3 separate regions of the Homo sapiens genome follow, and regions 1 and 2 are each linked to region 3. Evidence: fine-mapped expression QTL. A gene starts in region 3. Each other region holds a variant in brackets. All regions are shown on one strand. Distances are from middle to middle. Region 1 overlaps MIR3681HG (MIR3681 host gene). Region 2 overlaps TRIB2 (tribbles pseudokinase 2). Region 3 holds the start of TRIB2 (tribbles pseudokinase 2).

Evidence for each region. PIP is the estimated chance that this variant, and not a neighbour inherited with it, causes the effect.
Region 1: its variant is the best candidate, but not a certain one, in a credible set for the expression of TRIB2 in whole blood (TOPMed, PIP 0.58).
Region 2: its variant is the best candidate, but not a certain one, in a credible set for the expression of TRIB2 in follicular helper T cells (Schmiedel 2018, PIP 0.50).

What each region holds. Positions count from the first base shown.
Region 1 is chr2:12,279,692-12,283,932 of GRCh38, reverse strand. All of the region lies in intron 3 of MIR3681HG (MIR3681 host gene), which reads right to left. Among named protein-coding and RNA genes, the nearest start is that of MIR3681, 83 kb to the right of the region's middle. The variant C/T (reference allele first, on the strand shown) is at 1,721.
Region 2 is chr2:12,739,620-12,743,834 of GRCh38, reverse strand. It overlaps TRIB2 (tribbles pseudokinase 2), which reads right to left. Exons shown (of 3, transcript NM_021643.4): 3 at 1,101-3,509. The coding sequence ends at 3,041. Among named protein-coding and RNA genes, the nearest start is that of MIR3125, 4.4 kb to the right of the region's middle. The variant A/C (reference allele first, on the strand shown) is at 2,435.
Region 3 is chr2:12,714,803-12,719,043 of GRCh38, reverse strand. It overlaps TRIB2 (tribbles pseudokinase 2), which reads right to left and starts at 2,108. Exons shown (of 3, transcript NM_021643.4): 1 at 467-2,108. The coding sequence starts at 736. It overlaps LOC124905974 (a long non-coding RNA gene), which reads left to right and starts at 2,286. Exons shown (of 2, transcript XR_007086222.1): 1 at 2,286-4,241. RefSeq lists enhancers at 1-279, 1,641-1,710, 1,559-2,198 and silencers at 2,151-2,210, 2,301-2,520.

The DNA.
Region 1 (4,241 bases), 440 kb after region 3:
TGTTGCTTAAGCTTTTGATGCCAAATCTAAGAATCCATTGCCAAACAAGAAGCCATGAACATTTATCCCTGTGTTATTTGTACCAGCTTTGTTGTTTTAGCTCTTATACTTAGGTCATTGATTAATTTTGAGTTAATTTTTATATTTGGAGTGAAGAAAGGAGTCCAAATTTCTTCTTTTGCATATGGTTTTTTAGTTATCCTAGCACCAATTATTTAAGAGTCTATTCTTTCCTTGTTGAAGGGTCTTGGCAACGTTGCTGAAAATCAATTGGCCATAGATGTTTGGGTTTGTTTCTGGATTCTCATTCTGTTACATTGGCCTATATGCCTATACTTATGGCTGTGCTATGCTGTGTTGATTACCACAGCTTTGTGGTAAGTTTTGAAACTGAAAATTTGTGAGGCCTCCAATTTTGTTTTTATTTTGTTTTAATATTGTTTTGGCTATTTGGAGCACCTTGAAATTCCATATGAATTTGAGAATTAGCTTTGTCATTTCAGGGGAAAAAAGGCCATTGATGGGGATTATATTGATTCTGTAGATCTTTTTTAGGGAGTAGTTTCTTTACAATATTAAGTGCTCTAATTCATAAATATAGATTATCTTTTTACTTATTTCCTCTTTAATTTATTTCAGAAATGTTTTATAGTTTTCAGTGTACAAGTCTTTCACTTCTCTAAAATTTATTTCTGGGTATTTTATTCTTTCAATATTAGTGTAAATAATTTTTTTCTTAATTTCCTTTTTGAATTGTTCATTGTTGGCAAATAGAAATGCAAATGATTTTGGTGTGTTGACCTTATACCCTGAAACTTTGCTAAACTTAGTTCTAGTAGGTTTGTGTGTGTGTGTGCGTGTGTGTGCATATTCTTTGGGATTTTCTTATAGAGAACGTGTCATCTGCAAATAGAGATCATTTTACTTCCTTTCCAAATTGGATTATTTTTGTTTCTCTTTCCTTTTCTTGCCTAATTTTTCTGGCTAGGACTAGCAGTATAATGCTGAATAGCAGGGCTAGGCAGTACTTCCTAATGAAGAGTTTTAGGGGATTTCAAACTCATTTTTAAAATAGATAAAAAATGTCACATCTTCAGATGAGTTTGCAGTAACAATTGATTGACATCAGGAAAGGCTGACATTTATAAGCCAAATTCAAAAGCAAAAAATGGAAAAAGAAAATTTTACATAATTGGTAATTGGGACTAAAATACGTGCATCAATATTTAAAGAAAAGCCAAGGATGCATTTCTTCCATTTTGATTTATGTGTTCCTATAAAGAAAACTTTTCAGCTACAATATTTTTTTAAAAACTATTAAATAACATGAAATTAAAATCAGATTCTCAATCACTAAGTGCAAATAATTAAAATAATGCTTGAGAAATAAGCATAGTCAATCATATTGTTCTCAATAAAAATGGTATTAATAAAAAAATTTTAATCAAAATATTCTATTGAGTTGAAAAAACAAATCATTTTACTGTTATGTATCTTACTTTTTAAAAGTATATTTACAAAATGCAATAAAATTATTTATAATAAATAGTATATTGGGCTGTATGTTCAAATATTTTTCCTAATAGTGTTGAGTGATCAAAAGGCTTTAGGGACTATTGCCAGAGACATGTATGTGTATGATTTATCTGTAATACTAGGCCATTAACTCAAAGAAATCAGTATTCATTTCTGATTCTTTTCTAACCCCCACAGCACATGG[C/T]ACAATACCTTGCACATGGCAAATGATCAGTAATTACTTGTTGAACAAATCAAAGAATAAATTCACAAGACTGTGTAGTTACTTATCTGGAAGTAATGGTTGACCACCCATCTGCCAATTCTTAGTGAAGGAATTGTTTTCCTGCTTACTACACTGATTTTATTGTAACTCATTCAAGTCAGTCAAAATACATAACTTCCCTTCCAACTTCTCTACTCCAGGCCATCCTGTCAACATGTCTGCATTATTCTGTCTACCTAGTAGGTATTTACTAAATATATGCTAACTTAATTGCACTTTTATAATGAGACAGATGTAAATATTTCCATAAAAAACAAAGACCGTTAAAAATTAAATGATACAACAAGAAAAAAATAAATGCTTAAAATAATGCAATGAAAGTATTATTTTCTGTCTTTCAGTTTAAAAGCTTTTCAGCGACTCTTTTAACTTTAATCTTTGAGTGTTGGAGAAGAGACATGAGTGTGTGCTGGAAAATAGCTCTTCTAGAGCATTGTTCAGGCAATGGGTTCTTGTTGGAGGGAAGGGAAGATTTTTTTATTTTCAGTGCAAATATGTAAGCAACTCAAGATGACATCTTCCTAGGTCCTGTGCTCATGTCTGGTTCTTAAGGAGAGCAAGATACAACAAAGAATTTTCACAAAAATTACATATTTCTATTGCTGAAGTCCTGGTAAAGGGAATTTCTATTTTCAGCAATGCTGGTATAGGTGATCTGAACTCACTCCTCCACCCAGGACAATGTGCAAATTAGAAACCATCCTTAGGAACATAAAGCCACTCCAAAATGATTAGAGATATAATTGACATAATGAAAAGACCAATATAATAAAGATGGAAAGAATTGCTACTTACCAAAATCAGCTACAAATTTGATTCCATACCAGCAAAAACTCCCATTAGTTCACTTTTTAGTTGAAAAACATCCTCAAATCATTTTTCAGATGATCTGTACTAATACATAAAGCTGAATAGGTCACTGCCTTGTTTAATACCTTTTACTGCCTCCCCATTTCCCTCAAGATAAAATACAAACTCCTTAAAAGAGTTTCCTGGCCTGGCTCCTGCCTCCTTCTTCAGTCTGGGCTCACCTTCCTATCACCAGGAAGTGGCACCTCTAGGTGTTTGAAGAAGTGGTTTCTTCTTTCTGGAGGATTTCTATTTTCCCTAACTTCCTTGGCAGATACCTCCTAACTGATATCTCAGAACTCAGCTTATGTGTCACCTCCACACCAGCCGGCCGGTTTTGGGAGCCTGTCCTCTAGATTCTCATGGTTCCTGGACCTAATTCTACCATGGCATGTACTTCCTCTGTGTGCTGCCAACACTGGTGACTGCCCCATCTCCAACATTTGACAGTGGGCTCTCTGCATTTTCTCAGCTGGCATGGTGCCGTCACATAAGATGCTAAATAATTACTGAAAGGGTCAATGAATGAACAAGTGAATGAATTGAAGCAGCAAAAATACATTGATTTGTTTTTGTCTCCAAAGACAAGAGCCCACTTGCTGCCGATATGAAGAGAGTGATTTTCTGCTGCTGGGTAAATAGTTTCACCTCCCATTTTAAGTTTTAGTTGGCTAAATGCATACCTAGACATCTATATTCCATCTATTCATCCAATCAACAAATATTTATTTGTTACTTGCTATGTTCCACATGTGGTATTAGATCGAACCGTAATTGTTCGATCATTATGTTCGAAATTGTTGACATTAGATGGTTTAAAACATTTTCATATGGTACAACCTCCTGTAACCACTGTAGGGGAAAAGTACCTCTCTGGTCTCATGCTCATGGAAATCAGGGTGTGTGACAGACAATTCTCATACAATGTAGTAAGTACAGGTACTCCTAAAATGATTCTCTTTTGGAAGTTATATCAAATAAAATGCTGATAGCTCTTTGAATCGGGAAAACATTGACCTCATAGACATTTGTAATCAATTAGTTCACAAATGTTGGTTATTGGAGAGTCAACGTTTTCCAAGGCAGAAAATGGAAAATAGCATTATCTGTAGACCAATGGAGAAAATATCTGCCCAGGCTTGCCTGCTGAAAAATAGCATGGTAGTATATTTGAAAACCAAAAGACCCTAAGTACAATATGTTATAGAAGACGTAATGAGCACTGACAATATGACAGAATTTTATGTTGACTTAAAGCAGCCCCAGTCCCTGCCTAACGAATCTGCAGTCCAAGTTCTGTGGACAATCCTGAGAGAAGATAAAAATACACTAGAGGAAAGATGAATGCCTGCAATGAAGCGATCCCAAATGGCTCCTATCACAAATGGGGTTCCAGGAACCTCAGCGCTGCTTTCTGTATAAAGGCAGCACAGATGAACTTTAAAAAGGTGTTTTTCTTGTTAAAATTATACCATAATAGCGCCGTGGATTTCCTTTCAGCCCACTACCTCATGGACACAGCTGGAAGCCTGGGAAGCAGGTCGGTGTGCCCCTTTTCATCCCCTTCATTCCCCATCAGAGTGCCATGAAA
Region 2 (4,215 bases), 25 kb before region 3:
GATGTCACTGAATAATAAGCACTTTGTGAATTTAGAAGACTGGTCCAAATGGCCAGGAAGCCTCTGCTTCAGCCACATCCTCTTGTAAACCACAAACTCCAGTCTTTGCAAGATCTTTTATGAACTCCATCCAGGGCTTGGCATTCATGGTGTTAACTGGGATAAGTCTCTAAATACTTCTCACACCATCCTCCCTGCATAGAGTGCTGCTGCTGTCTCTCTTATTATCTAAATTCTTTTCGTTCCGGACTCTGCTTCAGGTGCTACCCCTTCCAGGACACCTTCTGACGGACCTAGACAGGAGTTGTCCATCTGATGGGCTTCCATCAATCCTGCGTGTGTGTACCCCACCACTTGATTCTACTCATTGCATTTGTCTGTTTCCATGTCTCTTCCCAGCACACACTGAAATAACAGAGGTGCTTAGCAAACATTTCAGGAGAGAATTGAGCTTCTCTGGGCCGTAGTTATTTCTGTTAAGTAAGGTGCACTACGGATGCGACTGTCTATCGAGCCCCAGCAACCTTGATATTTGCGGATCTCAGACTCAAGTAAGGGCTGCTGGGCAGATGTTGTTGCTGGGAGTTGGGTGGTCTCCTAGGAGGGTTCCACTCAAGTTTGCAGCACAGGGCTTTTCCTGGGGAAACCATGTGTAGGCCTGGATTACTTGTGCCCTACGTAATCCTGGTTACTCTAGAGCTATTACTACACTCTCCCTGAGAACATCTGGACTCTTAACATTGTAGAAAGAGTAAACAAGCTTTGTGGCTAACCAGACATGGGGTCCAGTCTTGGGCCTAGCACTCACAAGTTTAACCCTGGACAAGGCATGCACATTTCTGGGTTTATTTCCTAATCTGTATTAGGAACGTAAGTTAGGTCACCTACAGTTGTTGTGACGATTAATTCAGTGTGAGCTATTGCATCCAGATTGGACAGCATATGCCCCAATACGATGAAAGGGAGATTCCATGTCTTAAAAGTAGTAGCAGTGGCTCACCCTGAAAGAGCAAATGCCTGTAAGATGTGAGCTTCTGCCCGGTGTGTGGTGACCACAAAGCACAGGTGGCAAAAAAATCATCATTTTCCAGACTCCAGCATTTTAGTTAAATACGCACAATTTTATTGATTGAAGAGATTAGGACAAAAACATTAAACCAAATACAGGACAAAGCACCAGAGGCCATAGATCCCCACCATGCATGTCACCAACCTCTCCTCCTCCAAGGTACTTAAAAAATAGGGGAGAGGGGAAAAAAAAGGTCCTTCTTGACACAGCACCATCTTCAGAATGTTAAAAAAAAAAAAAACCTTCTCTCCTTTCTATCTTCCATTAGCAAAATAGAATCAAGGGCAAATCCATGGCCGCCTTGTCTCCTGGTTACGAAGGGTGAAGCCGCCCTCCTGGGAACGTGAGGACAGGGCTCCTGCTGCGCAGGCATAAAGCATCCAAGAGTCTGCACATACATGCCACACACTATTATGAAGCACAGATTCAAGTAACATTTACATACTAGAGTCCACGTGTCACCTACCCAAAAACAGGACCATTTCACAAAACATATACAGGCAGTCAAATCCGAACAAGTGAGGTACTGGGAACACAAATATTTATGCCAAAAGAGTTCTGTATCATACAGCAATAGAAAAGCCGTAATAAAAAACATTTTGCCACTCGAAATCAAATAAAGCTATCTAGAAAAGCCAAGTAAAAGGTTATTTCAGAGACAGAAATACTCAAACAAGGAAAAAGAATTATAAATGTTAACTACAGCATGTAATATGTCATCCCAAGTCAACCCGTAATTGAAGTACTGGCTTAATACATCACAATGTGACATTTTCCTTAATAAATAGAAGAGTTCTTGAAAATACAAAGGTGCGTATTGGGATAGAGAGCTGTTTTTATTTATATCATCATAGCTTTCAGCTAATTATCCTTCCCGCTTGTCTCTACTGAGGGTTTTTGTCCAAACCAGAGGGCCTTACAAGCCTTAAAAGGATCATTCTCTGTAAAGAAAACTAAATAGCTGCCCTGTATTTTATACATGTGGGACAACCTGCTTTGTTTCACTAGTTTCTAATAAAACAAAGACAAATGTTTAGTTGCGATCAGAGTACTGCAAAAGCATCAGACTCCAGGAGCTTGCTAAAATCTCAGGCCATTGCTATCATCTCAGCAAAGAGGAATGCCTGTCACACAAACCCTCATTGTTCAAAAGCAAAACATGAAAAAGGAGTTGGATTTCTCTTTTCCTTTCTTCTTCCCTTTTCTTTCCCCCTTTAAACTAAGATAGCAGTAATGCATCTGGACGTTTGACTTCTAATAGCTTCCTGCCACGAACCAATTGACACAAAACAGAATAGCTTGTTAAAGGACAGATTTTTTCCCCCTTCAGGGAGCAAAGCATTAACATGTCATTTCCTGACCAGG[A/C]TATTAAATAGTTTATTTAGAAGAAATGAGTTGAAGTGAGCGATTAAGAGACACAAACTGGACTTTTGTTTTCTTTTACTGTAGCACCCAGGTTTCATGTCAGTCTGTGTGCACCGAATTTTTTTTTTAAGTGAACCTCATTAATTACCAGCTAGGTGGTTGGCTTGTTTAAAAGAAAAAAAATTCTTGGCCAACTGTTCCTTCCCTGAATCCTAACAAGAAGTTAAATGCTAACAGTGCGATGCCAGGATGTGTGTTTGAGGCAGAGAGTTTTGATTCTGTCAGGATCTGCAACTATTTTGGAACAAAATGAAAAGTGGGGTAGGCGGAAGTGGCCCAAGTGGCAAGGGGTGGTCTCCCAGGCTATGTTAGGGAAGACAAGCTCCAGCGGGCTCCCATCCATCTCACCCCAATCCCCATCCCACGCCTCTTGCCCCCATGCTACGTGGTCAGTCAGCTCCTTGAAGGTTTTCCTGCTCTGAACCAAGAAACTTAAGAGTGTGTCTTTCTTGCTACTCAGCCAGGCAATTCGTGTCCCCCGGAAGAACTCCTTTCCGCTGCCCTCGCTCACTCCTGGAACCTGCTAAGTCTCCGTGGGGCATGAGCTCAGTTAAAGAAAGGGTCCAAGTTCTCTTCCATGTTGACGTCCGGCACCAGCTGGTCAGACACTTCCTTAGCACCATATGCTGAATTCGAGACGCTAAAATCTGTAGAAAACCAAGGATGGTCCAGAATTTCCTGCGAGGTCAGCCGCTCTGAGGGCTCCCGACGCAGAATGCTTCGGATGAGGCACTTGGCCTTGGGCGACAGAGTCTCTGGAATGTTGAACTGGCCACGCCGGATCTTGCTGAAGAGGGAGCTGGGTTCAATGTCATGGAAAGGGTACCGCCCCACCAACATGGTGTACAGCATCACCCCCAGGCTCCACACGTCGGCTGCTTTGCCCGAGTAGCTGCCACTGGTGTTCAAGATCTCTGGGCTTACGTAAGCCGGGCAGCCATGCTTGTCGGAGAGGGAATCATCATCTCCCCGCAGAATGTAGGCGTCTTCCAGGCTTTCCAGCTTGACCCGAGTCCTGCAAGAAAGGAGGAAAACATAAGCTCCTGAGGGTGCTCAGAGACACGTTACCACCAGCATCATAACATAACCGACTATAGTGTTTCTGAAGACTCCTCATTCACATTCATTCATTCACGCATTCATCTGACCAGCCAAACATTACTCACTGAGCACCTTCTAGCTGCCAGCTACTATTCCAGGGCTGAGGACACCCACATGGGTGAACAAGACTGACAAGGTCTTTTCATGCAGCTGATAATCCACTGGGGAGCTCAAACCTTGAGCACCTTAGCGAACCATGAATCACATCATCATCACCCCTGCGATGAGGGAACAAGAGATTAACTAGCTTTCTCAAAGTCACATTTGCATAATGATAGGGCACCACAGAATTCAAACCGAGACCTAACCAACCAGGAAGCCCACAGCTTTGTCTACAACTTTTGGCAGACGTGTAACTAACATGACAGACCACAGTCCACAAAGACCTTTCACCTTACTTGCATTTTGGCCTCACTACAGCCCTTTGTATTAGACACGTAGGATATTAACATCCCATTTTACAGATGAGAATATCGAGACTCAGAGAGTTCGGGTAACTTCCCCAAACCTGTTAGCTGGGAAATGGAGAAGACTTGATCCCACATCTTCCTAAGTTGATGCTGCTGCTCTTTCTGCTATACCAGGTGCCTCTCTTTAGGACCAGGCAGGAAGCAGGGAAT
Region 3 (4,241 bases):
AAGGGCACCTTCGGAACAAAGGTTTAACACCTGCCCGCTGCTAAGAACAATGGCTGCGAAAAGAACGAAGTCATCAGTCTTAAAATTACCGGGGGATTCCCTAATCCTTGTTGGAAGGGGAGGGGGCTAGACACAGGAAGAAATCCCCCCCGGGCAGCGGGACCCGGCCTCGCGCAGAGAGCTCCTGGAGCCTTCGGTGCACGCGTGTCCGTGGCCCCCGCGCAGTCCCGCCGCCCTCTCCTCCCCGGGCTCTCCCCGAAACGCCCCCACTGCCGCCCGCCCCATTGTCTGAAACGGTCTAAAAACTTCGCAACTTACCGAACCTGAGCAAATAAATAAATAAACCCATTTAATAAGGCCACGGTAATTATCCCGCGAATCTCCCTCTCCCAGACTCGAGGGCCTGGCGCCCTCCCGCTCCCTCGGGCCCCTTCCAAAGACAAAAAGCAACCCACTGGCCCTTTACCTTGCACACCAGCTCCTCTCCGCTGTGCAGATGCACGGCACGAAAAACGTGGTCTCCCTCCAGAGGTTCCAACAATAAGTATTTCCCGATACAAGAAACGCAATGCGACAAGTTCGGAGTCTCGGGCGGGCTCGGGGAGCCGAGGTTCGGGCTGAAACTCTGGCTGGGCTCCGCGGACCTTATAGACGACAACTCTTCGAAATCCTGGGTTTTGTTCCGCGATCTCCCATATCTCGCTATTGTGATGGGGGTAGACCTGTGTATGTTCATGAGTGTGAGGATCGCACACGACAAACAAAAAAAAACCCGCTGGAGAGATGAGTCGCTGGCGAGTGCGGCTGCAGGCGCCTCGGTGCCACTGATTTTAAAAGGGAGCGAGAGGGGAGGGGACAGAAGAGGGGCTGCGTGGAGAAAGAGTTAGAAGCCCCCAAATGGGCGCCGCCGGATACCTCGTCTGCTCCGAGCCCGGCTCCCGGGGGTCCTCGGTCGGCAGGCAACTCGGGTCTTTTTGTTACCCCAAAGCAGTCGGCGATGTGCAGAATCGCCGCACTTTTAGTTACTCTGTGTGTGTGTCCCCGGCGTGGATCTGGATGAGTACCCGGGCTGCTAAGGTGCGGAGCTGCAGCGCCAGGGCTCCCGACGCGACCCCCAGGCCGGCTTCCGAATCGCAGACGGGGCGGAGGAGCCCGCGGTAGTTTGTGCAGTCTTCGGGGAGCTCACGGCGGCGACTCAGTCCCAACGCGTTAGAAGCCAAACAAAAAGAGAAAGGAAACAAGCACGGGTCTACCGGCTGGCGACGCACGGCAGCCAGAATCCGCGCTGCACCCCCTTTTTTTGGTGGAAAGGGTGGGGGGCGTGTAAGGGGGGGGTGCGGGAGAGGGCAGTTACCTACGTTTTAACTGTAGATGGCGTCTGAGGCTTTTCCAAGATCGCGAGCTCTCCAAAAATTAAACAAACAAACAAAAAAAAGAAAAATTGCAAGGGAGCATTTAACTTGGTGCGGTCAGCGCTGCCAACAAAAGATTGCAAAAGCTGGGCACAGAGTTGCGGCGCGGGCTGGGCGCAGGTACCGCGACAAAGCCCTGGGCTCGGCCCGCCGCGCGGAGGTCAGCACAGGCTCATGCTGTCGCCGCTCGCTCGCGCCCCAGGTCTTCCTCCGAATGCAGCCAGACGTGCAGGAGAGAACGAGGACAGATCGGCGGTCTCCGATTTCGCCGGCACGAGCTTGCGGGGGTCCTGCGGGCGCTGCAAGGGGAGCTGCGTCCCTGGCCCTTCCAACGCGCGGCGTTCCTTTGCCCCTTTCCCGCTGGAGAACTGGATCTCGTCCTGGAATAATTTGCAATCACCCCGTCTCCCCCTACCCCGAGACCAAATTGCCCGGTGGGGTTTGTTTTGGAGAAAATTGACGGCTTGTCTCCTCCTTCTTTGATTTCTTGCTTGCCCCCCCCAGAGAAAAGAGGGGACCGTGTATTTAAAAATTAAAGGGGACGGCCGACGGTGCCCGAGGCCAATCCCCGCGCTCAGCACGCCCGCATCCCCCGGCGAGGCGGTATTAATAGTTACTTACGTGGCCGGGGATCTCGGAGCGAGCGGGGCCGTGAGTGCGCGTGTGCGCGCGCGCGCCTCGCTCGCGCTCGGTCTCCCCATTCAATGTCACCGACACATTTCCACGGAGCCTCCGCCCCCCCCCCGCCGCCCCCGCGACTGGCTCAGCCCAGAGCCGGCCCCGCCCCGCCCCCGCCCGGGCCCCCCTCATTGCGCCGGGCGCCCATCAATCAGCCCCGCCGCTGCCAGTCCTCGGGCGGCTCCCCGCGCCGCTGCCATTGCAGCTCCGTGCCGGGGGCGCCAGCACCGGCCTCGCAGCTCCCTCGCCCGGCCGGGGAGGTAAACAAAGTGAAATATCCTTCCGCGGCCCGGGGCCCCGGGCGCAGCACCCTGGGTGTCGGCTGCGAGCCGGCTGCGAGCCCAGCTGCGGGCGGCTGGGCCGGGGTTACCAGCAGCGACTCCCGAGCCGTTCCCCACACGCTGCTCCCGCAGCGCCCGCTCCAGCTCTTCGTAGCTCGTTCATGTTCCTGGCGCTTTTCCCCAGAAAGCCAGGCACGCTCTGAGCATTGGGCCCCCAGGCTCAGATGTGGCCCTGAATGAGGAGCTCTGTTTTGGAAGAATGCGCTTTCATCGGTATTGCTGCCTGGAGTTTCGAGAATTCGTTTCATGGTATCTCTCCGACATCCTCCTCTCCATTTAAAAGGAAATCCATTGCTTCCTTTTAGTTGGTGTCACCGCTTGCCCCCGATCCCCACATCCTGGGCTTGTATTTCTAGTGTTTTCAGCAGAAGAGGAACTGAAGGCATCTTTTGATTCAGGTCAAATTTAATCACTAATTCTTCCCTTCCCAGTGCATTGCCTGGAGGGCCTTGGAGGCCAAGCTAGACAAAACTTTGCACCCACACCTCCAGGGAGCGCTGTTGGGTCCTATCCAGGGTGCTGGGCGTCCTGAGTCCTCTTCTGTTAGCCAGGTGAAGGCTGCAGTTTCACGCCCCACTCCACCCCCCATTTCGCCACCCCCCCCGAATTATTCGTAACTTCCTTGGGAGATTCCAGTCCGCGGGCTTGGACAGGAACACCGGAAGCAAGGGGCTTGAACTCAGGCAGAGGCTTCAAACGCCAGCCTTGATCTAAGATATCCTGGTGAATGAGAAGCGATCTAGTAGAGGACAAACTTAAAAAAAAAAATCCCAAGGAACTGAGAAAGGGGAGTTGGGACGACTCCTGGAGCCCTCTGAGCTTTTGCATGCGTGTAGTATATTTTCCACTGGAGGAGGGGACTAAATTATTGTCCACTGTAGGACACTTTCAGTAAAAGAAGGGAGCTATTTATAATTATGTCCACTTGGGACAACAGTCACTCTAATGATCAGGAGTCCTGGGAATGTGGCCAGAGATGGAGAGGACATTGACTATAAAGCTTCCACCCAGCAGCACAGAGTTAAAAGGAAGGTTAAGAAGTGGACCCGTGCCTTCCAGCACCTCTCACCATCCTACTCCCCACAAACCTGCCTAGGATTCAGTCCCAGATCCCAGCAGAATAGATCTATTTCCCTAGGCGATCACCAGGACCACTGACCGAGCAGGGTCCCCTAATCCAGTCTTACCCCAGGAAGACACTTGGCCTGTGTTAGGAACAGTCTCGAAGCAACCCCTGCTGTTGAGTCAGAAAGAGAGGTGCCTAGCCTCCTCTATGCAGTGGCCAAGAGAGCTTTGTAATAATTAGGGGTTGGGACACCTGTGTGCTAGCCCTGGCTGGGTCTCTGATTTCAAATGGAAATTGGGTGAAGACCTTGTTTTTTCTCCCTAGATCCCTGTTTCTTCATCTGTAAGATGAGAAGCATAATACCCGCCCTGCTCACCTCATGTGGTTGCTTTAGAATTATATTTTCAATTCCAGGAAATCTATGAAGGCTTACTATAAGCCGGGCTCTGTGCTGAGTGTTAGGGATCCAATATGAGTAAGATCTGGTCTCTGCCACCCAAGAGCGCAGGGTCTAGCCCGGCAGAAAGACTGGGAAACAAATAATGTCATTGTGTAACAATGTGGCAATTAGAATATCAAGGCCTCAAGGGAGCATGGAGGAGGGAATGACTTTTCCTGAACGTCAGGGAGTTTTCCCAGAAAATGTGATTTTTATTACCTTGAACTAATCCAGAGCAAATATTTATTGAAACCTACTATGTGCCAGACACTGGATATGAAGATACAATGATTTGAAAAATATAT